Homo sapiens: one gene and its partners. The protein of the gene in region 1 purifies or fractionates together with the protein of each later gene. This does not show direct contact. Each region holds a gene or a part of one and is shown on either strand. Other genes may lie near its edges.

Evidence for each region.
Region 2: the proteins of LYPD6B (region 1) and CHRD purify together in Homo sapiens (affinity purification with mass spectrometry; one large-scale study listed by BioGRID and IntAct). This does not show direct contact.
Region 3: the proteins of LYPD6B (region 1) and PLXDC2 purify together in Homo sapiens (affinity purification with mass spectrometry; one large-scale study listed by BioGRID and IntAct). This does not show direct contact.
Region 4: the proteins of LYPD6B (region 1) and KCMF1 purify together in Homo sapiens (affinity purification with mass spectrometry; one large-scale study listed by BioGRID and IntAct). This does not show direct contact.
Region 5: the proteins of LYPD6B (region 1) and FBLN1 purify together in Homo sapiens (affinity purification with mass spectrometry; one large-scale study listed by BioGRID and IntAct). This does not show direct contact.
Region 6: the proteins of LYPD6B (region 1) and SEMA3B purify together in Homo sapiens (affinity purification with mass spectrometry; one large-scale study listed by BioGRID and IntAct). This does not show direct contact.
Region 7: the proteins of LYPD6B (region 1) and COL6A1 purify together in Homo sapiens (affinity purification with mass spectrometry; one large-scale study listed by BioGRID and IntAct). This does not show direct contact.

What each region holds. Positions count from the first base shown.
Region 1 is NC_000002.12:149,045,199-149,048,698, reverse strand, and holds part of LYPD6B (ly6/PLAUR domain-containing protein 6B), read right to left. Parts: intron 1-3,500. UniProt on the Homo sapiens protein: Likely acts as a modulator of nicotinic acetylcholine receptors (nAChRs) activity. In vitro acts on nAChRs in a subtype- and stoichiometry-dependent manner.
Region 2 is NC_000003.12:184,386,554-184,390,053, reverse strand, and holds the end of CHRD (chordin isoform 1 precursor), read right to left. Parts: coding exon 3,299-3,500; intron 3,210-3,298; coding exon 3,116-3,209; intron 3,004-3,115; coding exon 2,947-3,003; intron 2,681-2,946; coding exon 2,577-2,680; intron 2,124-2,576; coding exon 2,021-2,123; intron 1,468-2,020; coding exon 1,313-1,467; intron 1,162-1,312; coding exon 1,059-1,161; intron 688-1,058; coding exon 632-687; 3' UTR 225-631; downstream 1-224. UniProt on the Homo sapiens protein: Dorsalizing factor. Key developmental protein that dorsalizes early vertebrate embryonic tissues by binding to ventralizing TGF-beta family bone morphogenetic proteins (BMPs) and sequestering them in latent complexes.
Region 3 is NC_000010.11:20,284,932-20,288,431, reverse strand, and holds part of PLXDC2 (plexin domain-containing protein 2 isoform 1 precursor), read right to left. Parts: 3' UTR 1-3,500. UniProt on the Homo sapiens protein: May play a role in tumor angiogenesis.
Region 4 is NC_000002.12:85,026,661-85,030,160, forward strand, and holds part of KCMF1 (E3 ubiquitin-protein ligase KCMF1), read left to right. Parts: intron 1-1,228; coding exon 1,229-1,396; intron 1,397-3,500. UniProt on the Homo sapiens protein: E3 ubiquitin-protein ligase which accepts ubiquitin from an E2 ubiquitin-conjugating enzyme and then transfers it to targeted substrates, promoting their degradation by the proteasome.
Region 5 is NC_000022.11:45,540,883-45,544,382, reverse strand, and holds part of FBLN1 (fibulin-1 isoform D precursor), read right to left. Parts: intron 3,155-3,500; coding exon 3,011-3,154; intron 2,229-3,010; coding exon 2,100-2,228; intron 983-2,099; coding exon 857-982; intron 1-856. UniProt on the Homo sapiens protein: Incorporated into fibronectin-containing matrix fibers. May play a role in cell adhesion and migration along protein fibers within the extracellular matrix (ECM).
Region 6 is NC_000003.12:50,275,097-50,278,046, forward strand, and holds the end of SEMA3B (semaphorin-3B isoform 1 precursor), read left to right. Parts: intron 1-205; coding exon 206-363; intron 364-463; coding exon 464-519; intron 520-608; coding exon 609-748; intron 749-1,205; coding exon 1,206-1,610; 3' UTR 1,611-2,450; downstream 2,451-2,950. UniProt on the Homo sapiens protein: Inhibits axonal extension by providing local signals to specify territories inaccessible for growing axons.
Region 7 is NC_000021.9:45,998,770-46,002,158, reverse strand, and holds part of COL6A1 (collagen alpha-1(VI) chain precursor), read right to left. Parts: intron 3,263-3,389; coding exon 3,200-3,262; intron 3,007-3,199; coding exon 2,941-3,006; intron 2,503-2,940; coding exon 2,467-2,502; intron 1,829-2,466; coding exon 1,792-1,828; intron 1,401-1,791; coding exon 1,392-1,400; intron 907-1,391; coding exon 773-906; intron 199-772; coding exon 89-198; intron 1-88. UniProt on the Homo sapiens protein: Collagen VI acts as a cell-binding protein.

The DNA of each region.
Region 1 (3,500 bases):
TAAAAAGCCAGGTAAAGCACAAGATCATAACCTTCTCAAATCCATGAGAAAACTGAGGCAAAGGAGAACAAACTAGCCCAAAATCTAGAGAGGCACTTGCAGGAAGAGACAAGACATGAGCACTTGTCTACTTGAGGCAGATGTACCTGGACACTGACTAACAAGCATCGGGTCACAAATAACAATGGACTACCACTGGGAGAGTTGAAAGAGCATGGAGACAGACCACTCTGGGGCCCAGTACCACAGGAAGACCAAAAGATGGGAATGGCAAAGGCCTTTGGCAAGCCAGCTCCAACCCTAAATACAAGGCATCACTAGAGGAATTTGAAGTCTGGGGGTACACTGAGAATAACCAGAGGAATGAGAACCCTCAAACCCAGTTCATCTTCTGACTAGATTGATCAATCTTCACACTAAAGGCCTGGTAAAAAGAGAACGGCGTGCCCATTCCCATGCATAAAGCCTATCTCCATATCTAATGTCCTATATAAGATGTCTAGTTATCAACAAAAAAAAATTATAGGGCATGAGAAAAGCAAGAAAAGATCATACTGCGAAAAGACATTGCAATGAATAGAACCAGACCTAGATGCTGAAGCTATCAGACAAAGAATTTTAAATAACCAAAATTAATTATAAAAGTCCGTAGTGGAAAGGGTAGACAATCTGAAAGATTAAATGGAAAATGTTATCAGAGAGAAAAACTGCAGGAAAGAATCAAATGGAAATATTTGAAAGGCTAAAGACAGTAACAAATAAAGGATGCTTTCAACAGGCATTCTTCAGTGGACTTGATACAGCAAAGGAAAAAATCATTGAACTTGAAAATAGATCAGTAGAAATTACCCAAACTAAATAAGAAGAGAAAAAACATGAATAAAACAAGCAAAAAACGAATGGAGTGCCCAAGAGCTGTGGGACTGTATCATAAATTCAAACCTAGGTGTAACTGAAATTTCAGGAGAAAAGAAAGAAAATAGGCAGAAGAAATATTTGAAAAAATAATTGCTGAGAATTTTCCAAAATTAATGACAGATACCAAATCACAGATCCAAGGAGCTCAAGAACATCAGGTATGATAAATATCAAGAGTGTGCACGCATGCATACATGTACACACACACACACACACTCCCAGGCATATCATATTCAAAGAGCTGAAAACCAAAGACAAAAATAAAATCTTGAAAGCAGCAAAAGAAAAATGAAACATCAAATGAAAAGGAACAAAGATAGGAATTACAGAAGACTTCTTGTCAGAGGCATACAAGAAGAGAATGAAGCAACATTTTTAAAGTCCTGAATTTTTTTTTTAAATTGTCAACCCATTGCTTCTCAGCCTTTTAGCTAAGATCAAGCGTAAAAACTGTCAACCCAGAATTTTATACCCAGTAAAATATCTCCCAAAGATGCAGGAAAAATAGAAATCAAAGAGAAACAAAAACTTAGAATTCATTGCCAGGAGACCTACACTACAACAAATGTTAAATTAAGTTATCCAGGCGTTGCCAGACCAAAACTTGGATCTACACAAAGAAAACAATGATGGAAATGATATAAATGAAAATCAAACAAAATTATTTTTTCTCTTAATTTTAATTGCTATAAAAGATAACTGAATGTCTAAAGCAGGAGTAAGCAAACTATAACCTACAAGCCAAACCTAGCCCCTGGTCTGTTTTAGCATAACCAATGAACTAAGAATGTTTTTTGAAATACATTTGTAAAGAATTGTTTAAGAATAAAAGTATATGCAACAGAGACCATCTATGGCCTCAAAGCCTAAAATAATTACTTTCTGGCTTTTTTACAGAAAAAGTTTGTTGACCCCTGGTCTAAAGCAAAAAATCTTTTATTTATAGCTGATATTAAAAAATGATAATAACAATAGCACAAAACATAAAAGAGAAGTACTGTAAATATACTGCTATAAGACTACAAATGAAACAGTATAATACTACTTGAAAGTAGACTCTAATTAATTAAAGATACATATTATTAACTCTAGAGCAATCACTAAAAAAATGTAAAGAGGCATAGGTAAGAAGTCCATAGTGGAGATAAGGAAAATATAAAAAAATGCTCAAGACCAGGAGGTCGAGGGTACAGTAAGCCAAGATTGCGCCACTGTACTCTGGCCTGGGTGACAGAGCGGGACCCCATCTCAAAAAACAAAATAAACAACAACAACAACAAAAAAAGCTCAAGAAACAAGAAAAAAAAAGAACAGATAGAACAAATAGAAAACAACTAGCAAGATGGTAGATTATAATTAAGCCATATCAATAGCATAGCAAGTGTAAATGGTCTAACATACCAGTTAACAGACAGATATTGTCAGATTAGTTGAAAAAATAAGACTCAAGTATATGTTGCCACAAGAAAGCCACCTTAAGTATACAGGTTATTTTATAACCTAAATATAGGTTAAAAGTAAAAGAACACAAAAAGATATACAATGCAAACATTAATCCAAAAAAAGCTGGAGTATCTGTATTATTAACACCCAAAGCAGACTACAGAAAAAGGAATATTAACAGAAATACAGAGGGACATCACATAATAAGAAAGGGATCAAGATGTTCTCCAAGAGGACATCACAACCCTAAATGTGTATGCACTTAACAACATAGAGTCAAAATACATGAAGTAAGAAGTGATATGAGTAAAAAGAAAAATAGATACATCCACAATTGTAACTGGAAATGCTAACATTCCTCTCTTGGTTATAGAGAAAACAAGCAGAAAATTAATAAGAACACAGAAGACCTGAACAACCCTATCAAGCAACTTGACCTAATTGATATTTCTGGAACATCCCACCCATCAATAGCAGAATACACATATTTTCAAGTGTGCATTGAAATTCACCAAGATAAACCACATTCTGGGTCATAAAACAAATATGAACAAATCTAAAAGAACAGAAATCATGCAAGTCATATTCTAGGATAATAAAAGATTTAAACTAGAAATCAATAACAGAAAAACTTCTAGAAAATCCCCAAATATCTTAAAATTAAATGATATACTTTAAAATAACATACGGGTCAATAAGTAGTCTCAAAAGAAATGTTAAAATATTTAAACTAAGTGAAAATTCAAATATACATTTCAAAATTGTATAATGCAGCTAAAGCAAGGCCTAGAGGGAAATGTATAGCATTAAATACTTCTATTAAAACAAAAATCAGTAATATAAGCTTATCCCTTAAAAAATAGAAGAGTACATTAAACCTAAGCAAAGACAAGGAAGGCAATAATAAAATAAGAGCAGAAATCAATTAAATTGAAAACAGAAAAATAATAGACAAAATTAAACCAAAATCTGGATCTTTGAAGAGATCAGTAAAATTGATAAACCTCTAGACAGACTGAGCAAGAAAAAGACTGAAGACATAAGTTAATAATGTCAAGAATAAAAGAGGGAGTATTATTACTGACCATTCAGACATAAATGGCTAATAAAAGAACACCACAAAAAATTCTGTATCAATG
Region 2 (3,500 bases), on another chromosome or scaffold:
TACTTCCCTAAATTCTTGAGTCTCTAGACCATCTCAAGAACCATCCCCAGCCCCTCTGCGGAACCCAGGCATGCCAGCCAACTGCCACGCTATCCTCTGCCTCTCCAGGTCTCTTTCAGCTCCCCAAGTGTCAGAGCTCCTCTCTCTCACCTCCTACTCTCTGCCCCTTCTCCACCAGGCCCCACTCAGGTTCCTGGCCACAAAGAGCCAACCTCATGCCCAAAGACTGAAAAAGAAATGTTTTAATAAATACAAAACTCTCCAATAATGACTCTGCTCAGCTCAGGGGCAGCAGGAGTGGAGTGTCGGGGGCCCTTGGTGCTGAGTGAAGATAAATTAAAAATCCCAACAAGCCAGTGACATTATGTACAGGAGGAAAGGGGTGGGGCTTCCAGGACAGAGGCCGAGGGTGGCAGGGCAGGACTTGGAGTGGCTGTGACCTCGGTCTGGCCCAGCTGCCTCTCCCCCTTGTGGAGCTGTGGTTCCCAGAGGTAGTGGGGGTGGGAGTAGAGGCAGGACAGAGGAGCAAAGGCACTGGGCTTCCCACAGGAGAATGCAAGAAGGTCCTCGATGCCACCCCTTCCCCAGCTCAGGCCCCATCCTCTTGGTCACTTGGCCCTCTGGCTGCTCCCTAAGAGCCTTCGGCTTCTTTCTCCAGCTCTGGATCAGTTCTGGTCTCTGGGGCTGCTGGAGACAGAAGGGAGGGAATGTTGGAGGAGGGGAGAGGGAGTGGAGAGGCACAGAGAGGCATAGAGGGCAGGGCAAAGCATCCCTGCCTTGGTCCCAGAAAGGCCAGTATTTTCTAAACAGGTCAGTGCACACAGCTGGGTGACCTTCATCTCGTTGCTTAATTTCTCTGAGCTTCAGAAATCTCATTTGTAAAGAAAAGGTCATAAATAACAATTCCACCAGGTTGCTGTGAGGGTGGATTGGAATGGCACTTGTGAGGCAGGCTGCACTGTTCCTGCACACAGTGAGTGCTCCCTTCCCTGATCAGGAGTCCCACAGGCAGGTGAGCCCTCCACTCACAGCTGCTGACCCTGGACTCCCTCACTTACGCCGCCGGTGGGCCGTGCAGCGGGAACAGCATCGACTCTCCTTCCCCGAGCCACAGGACAGTGGCAGTGAACAGTCATCCCGCTCACAGTGAGGCACCCCTGCCTGGTACAAGACAGAGCAGACACTGAGTGTCCCCCAGAGGCACTGGGACACAGTGACCTTCAGCTTCTTCAGGGACCTCCCTGGGAAGGTCTCCCTACTCCAGACCAGGCTCCCAGTACCCACCTCACACAAGCCTCTGCTCCCCACTTACCCCACATCTGCAGGTGATACAGCTCATCTCTCCAAAAGGGGGCACTGAGGGGTGCCAGCTCTGACTCTCTGGGAACCACTGCCCAGCAAAACGGCAGCCCCGGGGCCCATCAGCCTGCATGGGGTCCCCCAGCTGGGGGTGGGCCCCCGACCCCACTGTTGAGAGGGAAAGAGAAAGGATCAGCCCAGGAGGACCAACAAGGTTTTATGAGTATTCTCTTTGAATACCCAGCACGTTGCAGTTTCTGGCACTTAGTAGGTGATAAATTTGGATGGGTGGGTGGGCAGATGAATGGATGGATGAAGGGACGGATGGATGGATGGATGGATGGATGGATGGATGGATGGATGGATGCATCAATGGGTGGATGGGTGGATGGATGGAGGGATGGATGGATGCATGGATGGATGCATCAATGGGTGGATGGTTGTATGGGTGGATAGATAGATGAATGGACGGATGGATGGATGGATGGATGGATGGATGGATGGATGGATGGATGGACGGATGGATGGAGCAGGAACCAGAACCCATCATACCCCACTAGTATATCACATTCTTTCCACTGCATTTAGAGTCCTGGCTCCAGGCTAGGCACAGAGCAGTGCTCAGTATAATGCTCAATTAACTGAGCACCCTTCCCCTCACCCAGGACAAAGCCTGCCTCAACCCAAAGGTGAGGCCTCAGTGCTCAGCCACCTCTCTCACCTGGACACTGTTTGCAGCAGTCGGTGGGGTTGACACGCACAGGCTGGGCACAGGCCAGCCGGGGACACTGCACCTTCTCACAGTGCACCTCTCCAGTGCCCCCCTGTAGGGATCCATTGAGCAAGGAGTGTCAGGCAGGGGGCACATAAGCCTCCTGCCCACTCCCTCTCCTATTCCACACCTCAAATGCAGTCTCTCTGTGGCCTTTTACTCAGAGGCCCGGACTGGCTTTATAGACCTAAACTCAGCTCCTCATCAGAACCCTGCAAGGTAGGTGCCATCATATCTGCTTACAGGAGAGGAAAGTGAGGCTCAGGGACAGAAGGTGCCTAGGGTCACTGGCACTAGTTAGCTGGCAGAGCCAGAATCCACACCCAGGTCAGCCCTGTTCATTTTCCCACAGGAAGCCGACTCTCAGAGCGCAAGGGCCTTTTCTCATATCGTTTTGATTCTTGAGCCCTCCTCACCAAGGACGGGCCTTCCTCACCTGGCAGCCCCTCCCCATCTCTGCAGACCCCGCTGGGTTATGGCACCAGAGAAGATTGGGTGGCCATACCTTGCAGGTGCAGACAGCACACTTAATTAAGCCAAAGGGGGGCACAACGGGGTGCCACCGCGTACCCGCTGCCCGCCAGCTCCGGTCACCATCAAAATAGCAGCCTGGTGGGGAACAGGGCCCAGCAGCCATTAGTATGAGCTCATCAGCTGGGCCCACAACCAAGGCTTGAGCCTCAGGCCACCCCCACACGAGCCTAAGCCAAGGGCCCACCTGGGGGCCAGTAACACTAATGAGTCCTGTCAGGCATCACTTGGAATCTGTGCCCCTCAGGCCACCCCCTATATACTCTCCCCTTCTTGTCCCCCTCCTGGTTCAACCTAATGGCTCCTCTGGGGCCTCCCACCCTGCACGCACCCTTCCAGCTCACCCTCTCCTGGGTCCCGGCTCCTTGGCAGCCCTGGCAAGTCTCTGACATCTTGTTTCTCTGTGGAGCCAAAGAAATGGTGAAAGCAGAGAGTGACCACCCTCATTCCCTCCCCAAAGGACCTGTCCGCACTGGGCCAACTCCTCCCTCCACTCCCCTGCGGGGAACTCACCAGGGCAAACAGGGCAGCACTGGTCGGGAGCCTGCACCGGGTGTGGGCAGCTGGGCGGTGGGCACACCACCGGGTCACAGATCACCGTTCGTCTCTGCAGAGAGGAGCAGAGGCATTGACGGGAGTGTCCAGGCCCCTTGCTCCAGATCCCAGGACCCAGTGTGCCCTTCCAGGACCTCCTACCTGGCAGGTGCAGAGTGAGCAGAGCGGGTCGTAGTTGGGCGCCCAGCGAGCCCCGTGGGGGCGCTGCTGCCCCTCGAAGAAGCATGTGTTGGGGTCTCGGGGCCGCCCAGGACCACCAGGTTTGGCGGGCGCTAGGGCCGGGAGACCAGGCACCACAGGCGGCGCAGCAGAGGCTGTATCCGGAGCCCCCAGCGCCCGCACC
Region 3 (3,500 bases), on another chromosome or scaffold:
GGTCACCGAGAAGTATGGGCTGGTTATTTTAGCATGACAGAATGCAGGCTTGGAATTTCTCCTTGACATGGCAGAAGAAATAGGAATGATGCCCAGAGGACTGGAATAAATTCAAAATGCTTGGTTTTCCAAGTTCTATTTTAATAAACTTCGGAAAATTAACCTTTCCCTGAAAGACACGTCCTTGGTTTGGCACACAGGGCTTTCCAAAACAGTGAGAAACGAACTGGCCATGTGCTGCACTCACACACATAGTCATTCTTTTTGCTTGGGGTTGACTAGGTTCATAGGGCCAGATTTTCCTCAGTGTCCTCTTGTAGCAGTGCCGCAGTGAGCTTTGTGATTCTGACAAAGGGTGCCATTATATCCACTTTGAAATGCATTACAAATATTCTGCATGCTGGTGCAACTGGCATAAAATCTGGAAAGCCACCGCCCCCCCCCCCTCCCCCGCCGCAAGAAGTGCCCAATTTCTTCTCTTTTCACACTTCAACATTTCAAATGACTACACACAGAATTACCAGAAACAGTAGTAAATTCCTGGCATTCGAAGTTCCCATGATCCCAGCTGGCATATAAAAAAGACTCTCTCCTTTTTTTCCCCTGAAAATAATGTACTCTCCAGGCACTGTTGAAATGCTTCAAATCAGGCAAATGAGAGATTTGTTTTGACCAATCAATGAAAAGACTTCCCCCTCTTCTCCGTGAGGGCCCCAAGACTGGGTTACGCCATACACAAGATGTCTGTTTCTAAAGAGACTTCACTGATTTCCCTAAAATGATTTTAACATTTCTTTGCAAGTGAAGCTCTGATGTTGCCTAATGTTATTTTCAGAGTAGCCTGCTGCAGGATGCCTAATTTGAGTTTTTATTTCCCTGCTATAAATGTGACAATCTGAGTATGTTTTCATTCAAACCACCTTGAACATGGTGGCTGAGGCTTCACCACAAATGTCCAGAAAATAGCACTGGAGTCTGTCTGAGTCCTGAGATGGTCAAATCTCAGAGAAATCCAGCTCTGGGCCCGGAAAGGAAAGTGCCATCTCTTAACCTTTCCTCAGGAAAATTATTTTATTGATTTTTTTGCCTTATTTTCATGCCTTTTAAGTCAAAGGAAGATAAATGGAAAGTCTCTTTTTGGTCATTCACTAATTCTCTAGGGCAAGTCACATAATTCTCTAGGACAAAGGCCTCCATGATGTTAGGATGAATGCCATAGAAGAGGTATGGGGGGTGATGGCTGCATTTTAGACTAATCATAGGCATATCCTTTGCTTTCTCTATGTCAGGGGTCTCAGCATTGCTTGCAGAATATGTGCCCCAGTGTCTGGATGTCTGAATGACCTAAATTTGAGCTGGTCATCAATGAGTATTTATTAGCACATTGCTCTTAAGAAGTTAATAACTCGGCCAGGCACGGTGGCTCAGGCCTGTAATTCCAGCACTTTGGGAGGCGGAGGTGGGCGGATCACCTGAGGTCGGGAGCTGGGGACCAGCCTGACCAGCATGGAGAAACCCCGTCTCTACTAAAAATACAAAATTAGCCGGCTGTAGTGGCATATGCCTGTAATCCCAGCTACTTGGGCGGCTGAGGCAGGAGAATCGCTTGAACCTGGGAGGCGGAGGTTGCAGTGAGACGAGATCACGCCATTGCACTCCAGCCTGGGTAACAAGAGCAAAACCCCATCTCAAACAACAACTAAAAGAAGTTAATAACTCTGCCTAATAGCACATTTAGATTTTTATTTTTTTTTCCATGAATCATCTCCATTCACTCACTCTTAGGTTTATACTTTCCCCTAAAATTCCCCCATGAAACTTCTAAAATTAGTTTCATGCTATGTATTTGTTTGATAGGCACAGAAGGTTTACAGCTGCATGGTCAGTAAGCGATACTTTGGTCATGAATGTATATATACATATATATTTGCAATGCTGAGAAAAAGAGAGACTGCTGTTAAAAATCAAAATTCTCGTGGAATGAAGAGAAGCCACTGAGATTTTTTTCAACCAGAATGAAAATAAATAAAATATCACTATCTGCCAAATCAAAAGCTTTTATGTTATTCCATTATGAAAGACATTTATTGAGTAATTTGCAAATGTTAATAAGCCTTAGAAACTAGGAAAAGCTGAGTACTAGTTTATGACTTACATTTAATTTTTTTTCCAGCCTTTTATCCTGGGTTTAAAGTAACACAGAATCTTTCAGTGTCAACAGTGAGCTGGAAATTAACCTATAATAACAAGTTTTGAGCATTTTGCTCCTCCAGGCAAAATTTGGTCACTCATAATAAATATATTATGAAGAAGCCAATGATGATGTATTCCATAAACTTGTTATGAAAAACTGACTCCAGAAATTATGTGACTTTACTTGAATAATTACCATTTTACTTCTCTACAATAATCATTGTGAGAGCAGTGGGCATTGGATGGTTGAAAAGTTATTCCAGACAATAATTAGGCAGATGTATTACAATTTAAGTTGAGGCTAGATCAACTTAATCAAAACCTTAAGAAGTAATACCATGTTATGATATGACAATGGTAGAACAGGAAATTATAGACACATTTGAGGCTGGAGTTTTCTGATTTCCCTGATTGTCTTATGTCTGGGATGGTCTAATAAATGACATAACCACCACACACACCTAAAGTGCAAATGCTTTTTTGATACACTGGTGTTTCTGAATACCTCAAAACAGTGATATTAATAATTCAAAACCCAATAGAAATATTGGGTCGAGAAATCAAACTTCAACTGTTGCATCTGGTCAGTAAGACTGCAGTGAACTAGAAAGTATTCTTAGGTCAGGGAGAATTTTGAGTAACTTTTTTTCTCACAGATAAAATTAACAGGTCTACAGCACAGACATGCAGTGATATATTATGTTTCAGACACATTCTTCAGGCAAACAGTTTCTAGTTCCCATTTTAAGTAGAATAGAAAATTGGAGTTGAAAATTGATAGAGTATTGTTGATCCTATCTACTTGTAAAGTCTGGTTTAGGGATGTTATTGTATTATAATGATCGGTTACATGCCTGGACTCTCACTACTGTATATCACAAGTTACTAGCACAGTCACTTGGTTCCAGTAGGTGTTCAATAAATATTTCAGTGAACTGAACAGTTAAATAAATGAACAAATAGGGAGATGAATCAAAGTGCTCTGTAAAATGTAAAATGCTTCACAAACATAAGGTAATAGGAGTATATAAAAGGTAACACCACAGACCTCGCATTATCTGCCCAAAAAACCTTATAAGGACAAAAATGTTGTAATAGTTTGAAGAGCAAATAAAAATTGCAATTATATATGTGGTCAGAAAATCAGCTATATAGATCATTCATTTTCAAATATATTTGGGAAGAAATAAAACAAAGGCAGAAAAATTTTAAATGGCCAAAATAAATTGTATTGCTAACTTAGATGGCCACAGATGGGGGCAGGGGTGGAGAGAGGAGAAATTGAAAACACCACAAAGACCCCGCAA
Region 4 (3,500 bases), about 64 Mb from region 1:
AAATTTTTTTGTAGACAGGATCTCTCTATGTTGCCCAGGCTGGTCTTGAACTCCTGGCCTCAAGCCATCCCCCTGCCTCGCCTTGCCAAAGTGCTTGGGATTATAGGTGTTAGCCACCACACCCAGTTATTTCTTTTAACAGGTCAAGAATTATTTGATGCCCCAATTCTGATATGAACTCATGACTGATTCTGCTGCTCCTGCTAGTTCTTTCTGATGGTGCTTTGTTTTTTTGTGTGTATTTTATGGTTTAAATTATGAACTTATTCTTTGGATGTTTATATATGCCAGATGCTTGGTATCAATTCTAATTTAAGACCACTTAAAATTCTTGACCCAAGGTCTTTGGAACCATTTGATAGAATTTGGGCTATAAACCCATGAGGACTGGTTTGTGGTTATGGCTTTTTGTGTTATTTTGTGCCCCTAGGGCAGGGGGCTTTCACTGGGGTAATTTTTGTAATCCCCTAGGGAGGATTTCTAGCCTACCCATGCATTGAGAGTATATTAGGGTCTTGGTTTTATGAGGAATCTTCTGTTAATTATCCCACCTTCACTAGGCCTTTGTCCAATAATGCTGTGGACCTTAAGCTTAGATTTTTACCTGCTTGGGCAAATACCCTCATGGTGAAAAGCCTTCTTTAGTGCTTCCAGTCACCAGTTCCTCTTCGTCTTGGTTTTTACCTTCTTGCTGGCTTATCAAGGCTTTTTTTTTTTTTTTTTTTTTTTTTTTTGAGACAAAGCCTCACTCTGTTGTGAGGCTGGAGTGCAGTGGCGCGATCTCAGCTCACTGCAACCCTACCTCCTGGGTTTAAGCAATTCTCATGCCTCAGCCTCCCAAGTAGTTGGGATTACAGGTGCCAGCCACCACGCCCAGCTAATTTTTGCATTTTTAGTAGAGACGGGGTTTCAACATGTTGACCAGGCTGGTCTTGGACTACTGACCTCAAGTGATCCACCCGCCTCGACCCCCGCAAAGTGCTCAGATTACAGGCGTGAGCCACTGCACCCAGCCTGTATCAGTCATTTTAAATTATTTTCATGTGGAGTATAAATCAGAGTAATGAATCCAGCACATGGCTAAAACTTCCCGTATCATTTTACTAAGTCATTTCTAGTCATTTTGGAAAGGACATATGAGGTTAAATGAGCACCTGAAACATTCATAAAAATGAAATCAAGAGTGGCCTTTACAACTGGTAACTAAAGATATTTCTTTTTTTTATAGGTGTCAGCTGTGATGCATGTTTAAAAGGAAATTTTCGAGGTCGCAGATATAAGTGTTTAATTTGCTACGATTACGATCTTTGTGCATCTTGTTATGAAAGTGGTGCAACAACAACAAGGCATACAACTGACCACCCAATGCAGTGCATATTAACAAGGGTAGATTTTGGTAAGTAATTAAAAATTTAATGAATTACATCATTTAGAATTTTATGTACGTTGAAGAAGTAAAGGCAAAGTGTTCTAAAACTCCCCAGCAGCATACCATAAGCCCCAAATTCATTAAACATGAAATAAATCTTACTTTTTTTTGAGACGGAGTTTCGCTCTTGTTGCCCAGGCTGGAGTGCAATGGCGCGATCTTGGCTCACTGCAACCTCCACCTCCCTGGTTCAAGCAATTCCCCTGCCTCAGCCACCCGAGTAGCTGGGATTACAGGTGCACACCACCACGCCTGGCTAATTTTTTTGTATTTTTAGTAGAGACAGGGTTTCACCACGTTGGCCAGACTGGTCTCGAACTCCTGACCTCAGTCAATCTGCCCGACTCAGCCGCCCAAAGTGCTGGGATTATAGGCGTGAGCCACTGTGCCTGGCTTTTTTTTTTTTTTTTTTTTTTTTTTTGAGGAGTCTTACCCTGTCGCCTAGGCTGGAGTGCAATGTCGTGATCTCAGCTCGCTGCAACCTCCACCCCCCAGGTTCAAGCGATTCTCCTGCCTCAGCCTCCCAAGGAGCTGGGATTACAGGCGTGCACCACCATGCCCGGCTGATTTTTTGTATCTTTAGTAGAGATAGGGTTTCACCATGTTAACCAGGCTGGTCTTGAACTCCTAACCTAATGATACACCTGCCTCGGCCTCCAAAGTGCTGGGATTACAGGCGTAAGCCACCGCGCCCGGCCTTACTTTTTACGTACTAAGTAATTCTGTCTGTTCATCTTAATCATAGTTTACTTGTTTAAAAAAACCATTCAGAAATATACACAACTGACAAGGAATGAAATAGAAGAGTGCTTCAGTAAAGAAGAAATATGCTCTGTCTTTTGTTCGTGCTATTAACACACAAATAATAGCTTTATTTTATTTTATTTTTTATTTTTTTAAGACAGAGTCTCACTCTGTCGCCCACGCTGGAATGCAGTGGCCGGATTTCGGCTCACTGCAACATCTGCCTCCTGGCTTCAAGCAATTCTCGTGCCTCAGCCTCTTGAGTAGCTGAGACTACAGGTGTGTGCCACCTTGCCCAGCTAATTTTTTTGTATTTTTAGTAGAGATGAAGTTTCACTATGTTGGCCAGGCTGGTCTTGACCTCAAGTTATCCACCTGCCTTCGCCTCCCAAAGTGCTGGGATTACAGACGTGAGCCACCATGCCCAGCAATAATAGCTTTTGTAGTGACCAGAAAACAGATTGTTGGCTGGTTATGGTGGCTAACGCCTGTAATCCCAGCCCTTTGGGAGGCTTAAGATGGTCAGATCACTTGAGCCCAGGAGTTTGAGATGAGCCTGGGCAACATGGCAAAAACCCTGTCTCTGCATCCACCCCCGAAAAATACAATAAATTAGCTGGATGTGGTGGCGCACATGCATCTGTAGCCCTAGCTACTTGGGAGGCTGAGATGGGAGGATCACTTGAGCCCAGGAGGTCAAGTGTGCAGTGAACCCTGATTGTGCCACTACATTCCGGCCTGGCCAACAAAGCAAGACGCTATCTCAAAAAAAAAAAAAGGCAGATTGTTTCTACAGTTGATTAGAAGACATTGTAAGAAAATATATAAATGTTTCATGCTATAATTTTTTTTTTTTTTTTTTTTGAGACAAGAGTTTCACTCTTGTCGCCTAGGCTGGAGTGCAATGGCGCCATCTCAGCTCACTGCAACCTCCACCTCCTGGGTTCAAGCGATTCTCCTGCCTCAGCCTCCTGAATAGCTGGGATTACAGGTGCCCGCCACCATGCCCAGAAAATTTTTTTTGTATTTTTAATAGAGACAGGGTTTCACCATGTTGGCCAGGCTGGTCTTGAACTCCTAATCTTAGGTGATCCACTTGCGGGCCTCCCAGAGTGCTGAGATTACAGACATGAGCCACCACGCCTGGCTTCGTGCTATAATTTCTTACCTAGCCCACACTTTTTGTCCTTTTTATTTCAGCCATCCTAGTAGGTGTAAAGTAGTATCTCAGGTGGTTTTGATTTATATTTCTCTGAAATATAAATTATGTTGAGCATCTTTTCTTGTGCTTATGGGCCATTTGTATATCTACTTTGAAGAAATACCT
Region 5 (3,500 bases), on another chromosome or scaffold:
GGGCGCGGTGGCTCACGCCTGTAATGCCAGCACTTTGGGAGGCCGAGGTGGGCGGATCATCTGAGGTCAGGAGTTCAAGACCAGCCTGGCCAACATGGGGAAACCCTGTCTCTACTAAAAATACAAAAATTAGCTGGGCATGGTGGTGTGCACCTGTAATCCCAGCTATTCGGGAGGCTGAGGCAGGGGAATCGCTTGAACCCGGGAGGCGGAGGTTGCAGTGAGCCGAGATCGTAGCATTGCACTCCAGCCTGGGTGACAGAGCGAGACTCCGTCTCAAAAAAAAAAAAAGAAGTTAGAGGCAGGTGCACAGTGACCCACGCCCTAAAGGCCTCAGTACTTCCTCTCACAGCTCGTCATTTACAAAGCCTCCCTCCTTTTGTTTGGGTGACTTGAGATCAATGGACACAGAGGCCTGTCTCCCCTAGGCAGCATCTGATTAAAACCCACACACTGTCTTTGTGCAAAACAAGTGTCCAGTTTTCGCTGCTGTTTCACACATCAACCCCTCTCCCCGGGGAGGACACGGAGGCAGGGAGAGGTCGGGCATAACCAAGGCCCTGTGACTCGTGGGTGTCATGCTCCAAGCCCCATAATCCTAGCCACATCCCGCATGGCCTCTGCCGCAGCCTATGAACCCCGACACGGCCTCGGAGGGTGGATGTCATCAGGAGAAATCGGGTGGGCAGGCGGGCAGTCCTCTCTGATGAACAATATTTTACAGGCACTTCCCCTGCTAACATGTCATTTAACAGGGAAACCATCGCGGATCTGCTGCAAACCGGTCTGCAGAAGGGTGGCTTCCCCAGGAGGAAGGTGACCTGGGGGAGGTGAGTGGACGGGGCCCCAGCCTCACCTTCACATGACCTGCCATCCACAGAGAGCCGGAAGCCCACGGAACAGCTGCAGAGGTAGGAGCCCAGCGTGTTCTCGCACTTGTGGCCACACAGGCGCCCGGGGTAGCGCTGGCACTCGTTGACATCTGAAAGTGAGGGGTGGGCTGACTCAGGGCAATGTCCAACACAGTGGCACCACACTCCACCCTCCTAGTAAGGCCAGCTCATGTCCTTTGTCCTCCACCTCCTCCAGCCTCATTTCTTTTTTTTCCTTCATCTTTGAGATGGAGTCTCGCTCTGTCTCCTAGGCTGGATTGCAGTGGCATGATCTCAGCTCACTGCAACCTCCGCCTCCCAGTTCAAGTGATTCTCCTGCCTCAGCCTCCCAAGTAACAGGGATTACAGGCATGTGCCACCACGCCCGGCTAATTTTTGTATTTTTTGTAGAGATGAGGTTTCGTCATGTTGGCCAGGCTGGTCTCAAACTCCTGACCTCAAGTGATTCACCTGCCTTAGCCTCCCAAAGTGCTGGGATTACAGGCATGAGCCATCGCGCCTGGCCTCCAGCCTCATTTCTCAGACAAGGAATGCAAAGTGACTTGTCCCGAGCATGCGGGAAGTCAGTGGGAGAGCCGGGACTGCCGCGCTGTGCCTGCCTGGTGGGCGAGCCTCGTGCTCCTTCTGCGGCAGCACATCTGAACTTGTGCCCTCCTGCCAGTCCTCCTCCCCAGGACCCACAAGGAGGGTCTGCCAGGATCTAGCAAAGTGCCCACTTTGGGGGAGTGGTTGGCAGCTGCCAGGCTTCCCTGAGCACCTAGGTTTGGTGACAGCAGGCACTGGCTGGACAAGACCTGACCCCACTCCTGGTCAACTTTTCCCCTCGCTGCCCTGGGCTAAAGGCACACATCTCTAGCTCCTGGGGATCTACAGCTCAGCGGTGAATCTCCAGGAAATCGCTGATGCTGCCCACATGTGTAGACCTGGCTCATCAGCACTTGGAGGTCCTGGGTCAAGCAGAACCCCTTTCCACAGATGGGGAGCAGGCTCACACACAGGGGGGTGGTGCCAGTGGCCGCCTGGCTGGGCAGTAGCAGAGCTGGGGCTAGAATGGGGTCTCCTGACTCAGGATCTTCTCTCAGGGTCTGCCTGCACTTGGGATTATCTGAGATGAGGATCAGACCACATCACTCGAGGTGCCACAGAAATGTGTCCCTGGTGCCACGTGGCTGGGTTCCCCCGAGGCCTGCGGGGCCCCCCACGCACCGACACACATCCTGCTGATGCCGTCAAAATAGTAACCCGTCTTGCATTCGCAGCGGAAACTGCCGGGAGAGTTCACGCAGCGATGTCCCTTCCCACAGGGCTCAGCAGGTGGCGCGCACTCGTCCACATCTTGCAAAGGAGAAAGAAAGCCATGATGAAAACCTTTAGTTTGGGTTTTTTCCCCCCAAGATGATCAGAAAGGAAAGCAAGAAAGGAACACATGGACATGGAAACAGGCATTCCATTTCAACACGACTTCACAGAGCACCTACTGAGTGCCGGGCCCTGGACTGGGAAGATAGCTGACCCAGAGGCAGCCCTACCTGGCTGGCAGGCCAGCAATGACTCTCATTAAGGTAGGAAGTGCCCAGGAACCCAGGGAGACACTGAAGAAGTGTCCTGGGGGTTATGCGAGGAAGGCTCCTTCCCTGGCGGGATCTAGGCAGGCTGGGTGCCCTGGATCCAAAGGAACGTAGGAGCAGGTGGGCAGAGGGAATGACGTGAGAGCAAACACCCACACAGAGAGGAAAGGACAGTGCTTGTGTGGGGAGTGGCAGACCCACATTGCCTGAATTACAAGGTTTGTGGAGTTGGGCCAGCTCTGGGGGACTGGACTGTAAGCAGAGGCATCCATCCTTTGTCACCAACGGGGAGCTGATGGAACTGTAAACAGGGTGGGGTGCGAGAGCTTTGGGCTCAGGACAAGCCAGACAAGGCTGAGGCAGTAGACGGGCTGGTGCACCAGTCCAGGCAAGACAATGAAGCCCCATGCTTGGGAACTGACAGTGGGATGGATGGGCTGATAGAAATGGCTTTGCTTTGGGGATCAACTTTCTGCTTCCAGAGAAGGCAGGGTGCATGCTGGAAGCAGACAGGAAAGTGGATTTCAGATTTGTTTTCTTAATACCAACCAACACAGCGCGTTCCCTCCTCGTTGAGATGGTAGCCACGGCCACAGTTGGGCACGTTCTTCTGGCACGTGTAGGAGCCCTCTGTGTTGATGCATGTATGCCCGATAGGGCACGGGGCACTGATACTCAAACACTCATTGATATCTACAGCGGGAAAAGACAGAGACCATGTGGTTAAACCTGGAGGGTGTCCCAGAACCCAAAAACTGGATCTCCAAAGAAACTCCCCTTCCCACCTCTTTGCAAAACCACAAATGGAGGGGCTCAACCCCCTCACTCTGGACCACACAGCCGCCTCCCAGCTGGCTCCCAAATTTTATCACTGCATACCGCCTCAAACACCACCTCTCTGGCCCTTCTTCCTGTCCCTAAATCTCCAGCACCTCCATCGTTCGCTGCGCCAAATCGGGACCTGCCTGCCTGGCTTCTCCTGCATTCATCTACTCCACACACTGGGCACGGTATTAAGGAGACAGGTGACTGTCCACGT
Region 6 (2,950 bases), on another chromosome or scaffold:
GTGCCTGGCGCGTCCCAAGCCTCTGGCCCCTTTTGGTAGTTTGCAGTCCCGGGTTTGAGTACAGGCTCTGGCTTTGTTAGACTGTGTGACCTGAGGCGTAAGACCTCAGTGTTCCCATCTGTCGAGTGGAAGAAGGGATCCCTGACCGATGGGAGGCAGGCGTGGGGTCGCCCTCGGTCAGCCCAGAGCCCCTCGTGCCCCCTAGCACCAGCTGTACGTAGCCTCGCGGAGCGCGGTGGCCCAGATCGCGTTGCACCGCTGCGCTGCCCACGGCCGCGTCTGCACCGAATGCTGTCTGGCGCGTGACCCCTACTGCGCCTGGGACGGGGTCGCGTGCACGCGCTTCCAGCCCAGTGCCAAGAGGTGGGCGGGGTCGGGGTTGGGCCGCCGGGAGGGAGGCGAAGGGTCTTTCACTGCCCGGGGCTGAAAGAAGGGCTCACAGAAGATCGGATGTTCCCCACAGGCGGTTCCGGCGGCAAGACGTAAGGAATGGCGACCCCAGCACGTTGTGCTCCGGAGGTGAGTGCCCCAGCTGCCCCTACCCTCAGCCCCAGAAGACGCCCCACCTGCCCTGCCTTGCCTAAATCTGACTTTCTTCTCGCCCCAAGACTCGTCTCGTCCCGCGCTGCTGGAACACAAGGTGTTCGGCGTGGAGGGCAGCAGCGCCTTTCTGGAGTGTGAGCCCCGCTCGCTGCAGGCGCGCGTGGAGTGGACTTTCCAGCGCGCAGGGGTGACAGCCCACACCCAGGTGAGCCTTACTCCGCCCTCCCCGCCAGGCTCCTGTCCCACCCCCTGCATCCAGGAGAGGCCCCGCCCTACCCAACGAAGCCCCGTCCAACCAGACCCACTCCCCGCCCTGTCCAGTTTGGTCCCTCACCTGCACTCCACAAGCTGCTGAGGCCCCATTGCGTCCAACGGGGCTCCCGACCCGCCTCCCCTGAATCAAGGAGAAGACCCGCCCTCGACCCTCCCATTAAGGTCCCTGACCACCCCCCACCAAGTTCATGTAAACCCCGCCTCTTTCGGATTCTCCCTTGAAGACCACCAGCTCCCAAACACTCAGCCTTAAAATGTGCGCCTGCGGGCACCCCTTTCCCGCTCCACCTCGGCTCCCAATGACTCTTTGCTTCTTCCGTCGCGTGCTAGGGCCCGGAAGCCCTGTTCCCGGCCCGACACCCCCGCCTCACGCTGCCCTCTGCCCGCAGGTGCTGGCAGAGGAGCGCACCGAGCGCACCGCCCGGGGACTACTGCTGCGCAGGCTGCGGCGCCGGGACTCGGGCGTGTACTTGTGCGCCGCCGTCGAGCAGGGCTTTACGCAACCGCTGCGTCGCCTGTCGCTGCACGTGTTGAGTGCTACGCAGGCCGAACGACTGGCGCGGGCCGAGGAGGCTGCGCCCGCCGCGCCGCCGGGCCCCAAACTCTGGTACCGGGACTTTCTGCAGCTGGTGGAGCCGGGCGGAGGTGGCAGCGCGAACTCCCTGCGCATGTGCCGCCCGCAGCCTGCGCTGCAGTCACTGCCCCTGGAGTCGCGGAGAAAGGGCCGTAACCGGAGGACCCACGCCCCTGAGCCTCGCGCTGAGCGGGGGCCGCGCAGCGCAACGCACTGGTGACCAGACTGTCCCCACGCCGGGAACCAAGCAGGAGACGACAGGCGAGAGAGGAGCCAGACAGACCCTGAAAAGAAGGACGGGTTGGGGCCGGGCACATTGGGGGTCACCGGCCGATGGAGACACCAACCGACAGGCCCTGGCTGAGGGCAGCTGCGCGGGCTTATTTATTAACAGGATAACCCTTGAATGTAGCAGCCCCGGGAGGGCGGCACAGGTCGGGCGCAGGATTCAGCCGGAGGGAAGGGACGGGGAAGCCGAGCTCCAGAGCAACGACCAGGGCCGAGGAGGTGCCTGGAGTGCCCACCCTGGGAGACAGACCCCACCTCCTTGGGTAGTGAGCAGTGAGCAGAAAGCTGTGAACAGGCTGGGCTGCTGGAGGTGGGGCGAGGCAGGCCGACTGTACTAAAGTAACGCAATAAACGCATTATCAGCCAAAGCTGGAATGGCCCCAGCAGAAAACCCCAGTCCTCGGCCTTGCTATGTGGTCTTGGGCACCTTACTAGCGGTGTCAGGGCCCGAGTTTCTCCTGTCCAAGGTTGCCTGGTGAGGATTAAAGGTGGTTCCGGCCAGGCGCGGTGGCTCACGCCTGTAATCCCAACACTTTCGGAGGCCCAGGCGGACGGATCACGAGGTCAGGAGATGGAAACCATCCCGGCTAACACGGTGAAACCCCGTCTGTACTAAAAATACAAAAAATTAGTCGGGCGTGGTGGCGGGCGCCTGTAATCCTAGCTACTCAGGAGGCTGAGGCAGGAGAATTGCTTGAACCTGGGAGGTGGAGGTTGCAATGAGCCTAGATCTCGCCGCTGCACTCCAGCCTGGGCGACAGAGCGAGACTCCAAAAAAAAAAAAAAAAAAAAAAAAAAAGGTGGTTCCGCGTGACTGAACAGGTTCTGTAGGGCCTTTGGGAATAGTGACACGCAGGGTACATTGTGCATAATATAACTTCAGGACTAAGTGCTAGGAAGAAAATAAAACTGGACCGGGCGCAGTGGCTCACGCCTGTAATCCCAGCATTTTGGGAGGCCGAAGCAGTCGGATCATGAAGTCAGGAGTTCAAGACCAGCCTGACCAACATGGTGAAACCCTGTCTCTACTAAAAATACAAAACTTAGGTGGGTGTGATGGCACGCGCCTTTAATCCCAGCTACTCAGGAGGCTGAGGTAAGATAATTGCTTGAACCAGGGAGGCAGAGGTTGCAGTGAGCCGAGATCGCCCCACTGCACTCCAGCCTGGGCAACAGAGCGAGACTCTGTCTCAAAGAAAAGAAAACTGGGTGATGTGGAAAAGAATGTACACAGAAGGCCTCACTGAAGGGGTGGCATTTGAGTTCGCTGAC
Region 7 (3,389 bases), on another chromosome or scaffold:
ACCTGGGATCAGGGGTCAGGGCCGACCTGCCGTGGGAACAGCGGTCGGGGCGAGGGGTGGGAGGGTCCTGGCCGCGTGGGGCACTCACTCCTTGAGCTCCTGCACGTTCCGGATGCTGGGGCTGCGCAGGCTCACGTGCTCCTGCATCTGGCTGTGGCTGTACTGCACCACACCCGCGTACGACTGCCCTGGCTCGAACTGTGGGACCGGCACCGGGGTCAGGACGCGAGTGCTGCCCCAGGTCCGCATAAGCTTCCCAAGGGTGACTCTATTGGCTGCGGGTGCCCAGAGGGTGGCATGGCCCCCAGGACCTCAGGACCTGGGTCCCCTGCGATTGGCTCTGGGTGCACAGAGGGTGGCACAGCCCCCGGGACCTGGGTACCCTGCGATTGGCTCCGGGTGCCCAGAGGGTGGCACAGCCCCCGGGACCTGGGTACCCTGCAAAGCAATCTTCCTTGGTGGATGAAGCCCTCCTGGGTTCTGTCCACGAGGGACAAGCCCACACCCAGCACTCAGGACCCCAGACTACCGCCCTTCAAGGAGAGGGGGAGACCCTCCCTCATCTGGGGCGCCTGTGTACAATGGGCCAGCCTCGCCAGGTGGAGCTGGAGGCCTGGACGGGCTGGCGCGTGCCTGGCATCCTTGTCATGAGTAGGGAAGTCACAGGGATGCAGCGGTGGCCTCGGGAGGCTGAGGTCTGGCGCGGGCAGGGGCGGCCGGCAGGGTCGGGGTGCACCTGGGCTTGAGAAAGCCGGGCGGGGCGAGGCCTCACCTTGACCAGCTCGTCCCGGCTCAGCCGGTCGATGACCTTGACGACGAAGTCCTTGGCAATCTCGAAGTTCTGCAGGCCAATGCTCTCTGAGCTGTCCAGCACGAACAGGAGGTCGATGGGGCCGCACTTGCATTCTGCAGGCGGGGGCGGTGTCAGCAGAGCACGCCCCTCCCCTCCAGTGCCCTGGCCCCTCCCCTCCACCGCCCTGGCCCCTCCTTGGCTGCCACATCCTCACCTGACACGTTGGGGTCCCCCCGTCTCAGCCCCAGAAAAGCCCACCCCCTCCCATGGCCCCGTAAAGGCTGCTCTGTCCGGCGGCTGGTCAGGGCTGGCGTTGCTCAGCCAGGCTAGGGTGGGGCCTGTGGGCCAGAATGATGGAGCAGGGACCCCCCCAAGCCTGCTCCTGGTTATTTCAGTTATGGGTGAAAGAGGGCGGGGCCCAGCCCAACACCCGGGAACCCTGCTGGCTTGGAGCAGGCCCCAGAGGGGGCGGGCAGGTGCAGGGAGCTGCGGGCGGGGACCAGAGTGCCATGTGCTGTCCTGTGACATGTGTGGGACCCAGGCCTCGCTCCCCGACCCCCGGGATCCATTCTCTCAGGAGCTAGAGCCTGGGTCTCACCACAGCAAGCTGAGGAGAAGAGAAAGAGTCAGTTAGACCAGTCAGGGCCGCGTCCTGCGCACGTCAGAAAGGCTTTTACTCTTGGGGCAGCCTCCCCGCCTCCCCGGCCGCCCTCCTTCCCCGGCCTCCCCCCTTCCCCGGCCTCCTGCCCCGCCTCCCCGCCTCCCCGGCCGCCCTCCCCACGTGGCAGCTCTGCACCGCACCGGGGACTCTCAGCCTGTGCGGGGACCCGGGGGCCTGGGAGGGCTTTGGAGGCCGGTAGGGGCTGGCTGAGGAGCCTCCTCAAGGATGTACCCAGAGACCCAGGCCCCCAACAGTGGAGACACCCTTCTAGGAGTGGAACAGGCCAGGCTGGCGGCCCTGCTCTCCCTAACGAGGACGGCTTCTCAGAGATACTCACAGCACATTTTCATGATGATGTCCAAAATCTCGCATTCCTGGGGAGGGAGAGACGAGGGTACTGGGGCCATAGACAGCCCCTCCCAGCGGGGACTGTGGGCTGCTGGATCTCCAGGTCACCCTCCCTGGGGCCCCCACAGGGCGGGGTTTGGGCAGGAGGTTCTTTGCAGGTGTGCCCGGCTCTGCCCACTACACCCCTGCTACTGGGCTGGACCCCTGACGTGGTCATAGAAACAGCGCAGTCATGGGTCTCCCCGTGGCCGTCACGGGTCCCCTCATGGTCCTCATGGGTACAGGTCCCCCCATGATCCTCACACGTCCCCCCCCATGATCCTCACACGGGTCCCCCATGATCCTCACGGGTCCCCCATGATCCTCACATGTCCCCCTCCATGATCCTCACGTCCTCCCATGATCCTCACACGTCCCCCCCATGATCCTCACATGTCCCCCATGATCCTCACATGTCCCCTCTATGGTCCTCACACATCCCCCTATGATCCTCACGGGTCCTCCCATGGCCGTCACGGGTCCCTAGGGCCTGGCACCAGCTCTTTGTCCACAACCCACCCCCCCGTGAGCAGCGTCTACAGGAGCACCCATGGACAGGACCCACACCCCAAGGGATGGAAGCTACAGTGGTCGCCCCCAGCAATGTTCACAGAGCCCCACTTACGTCCGGCCCAGGCGGTCCTTGGTGTCCTGGGGGTCCCTGTCCGAGAAACGGAGTAGAGGAGCTCTGAGGGTGAGGAGCCCACTGTGCTTCCTGAGCTGAGACAGCCCCCACCCCCAGGGCCCTGCCCCTCATCAAGCCCACCCCTGCCCGGTCCCTCCCTACCCAGCCCCTCGTCCTCCAGTGACGGTGCTGTGAGGGCAGCTGGGGCTTCGCACACTGGTGGTCCAGGCGGCCATCCCAGGTGGGCCCCACCCTGAGGACCCGCTGTGTCCCTGGGCTCGGCTCTGCTGCCCTGGCCACCACCTGGCCCTGGTGACCGGCACCTCCCACCCCCAGGGCCTCCCAGATGACGTGCTCCCCAAAATTCCCTCCCGCCGCCTCCCACTCTCCCAGCCTCTTCCAGCATTCCCCAGCCCCAGCATCCGGCGTCCCAGGCACAGCCCACCGTGGCCTCACCCAGCCACATCCACCCACCTGGGGGCCCTCGGGACCCCGGTACCCCTTTGCTCCTTTGACTCCTCGGGGTGCAATGTCGTTGTTCTAGAAGGGAACAGCGTTGTGTCAACAGACCGTGCACCACCCGGGCATCTGCGCGCTGGCCCCGTCCACAGAGCATCCAGCAGCCGGGGCCCATGAGGCCTCCCCAAGCGGGTCCTGGTCCACTGCCCTTCAAGGGCCCAGCCCTCTGGCTCAGGTGGACTTGGGGCTGGCCCTGCCTCCCATCCACACTTACATCGTCTCCGGGGTCCCCGGCTTCTCCCTCGTCCCCCTTGAGGCCGGGGTAGCCCTTCGTGCCCTGCAGTGACGGGAGAGCACTTGGTTAACAAGGGTTTTATTTTGTTTTTAGGAAGTGGAAATTTTAAAAGGAAAAAAATAAAGATAAGAGAGGCACTCTTCTCTTCCCTTCCCCCACCACACACATT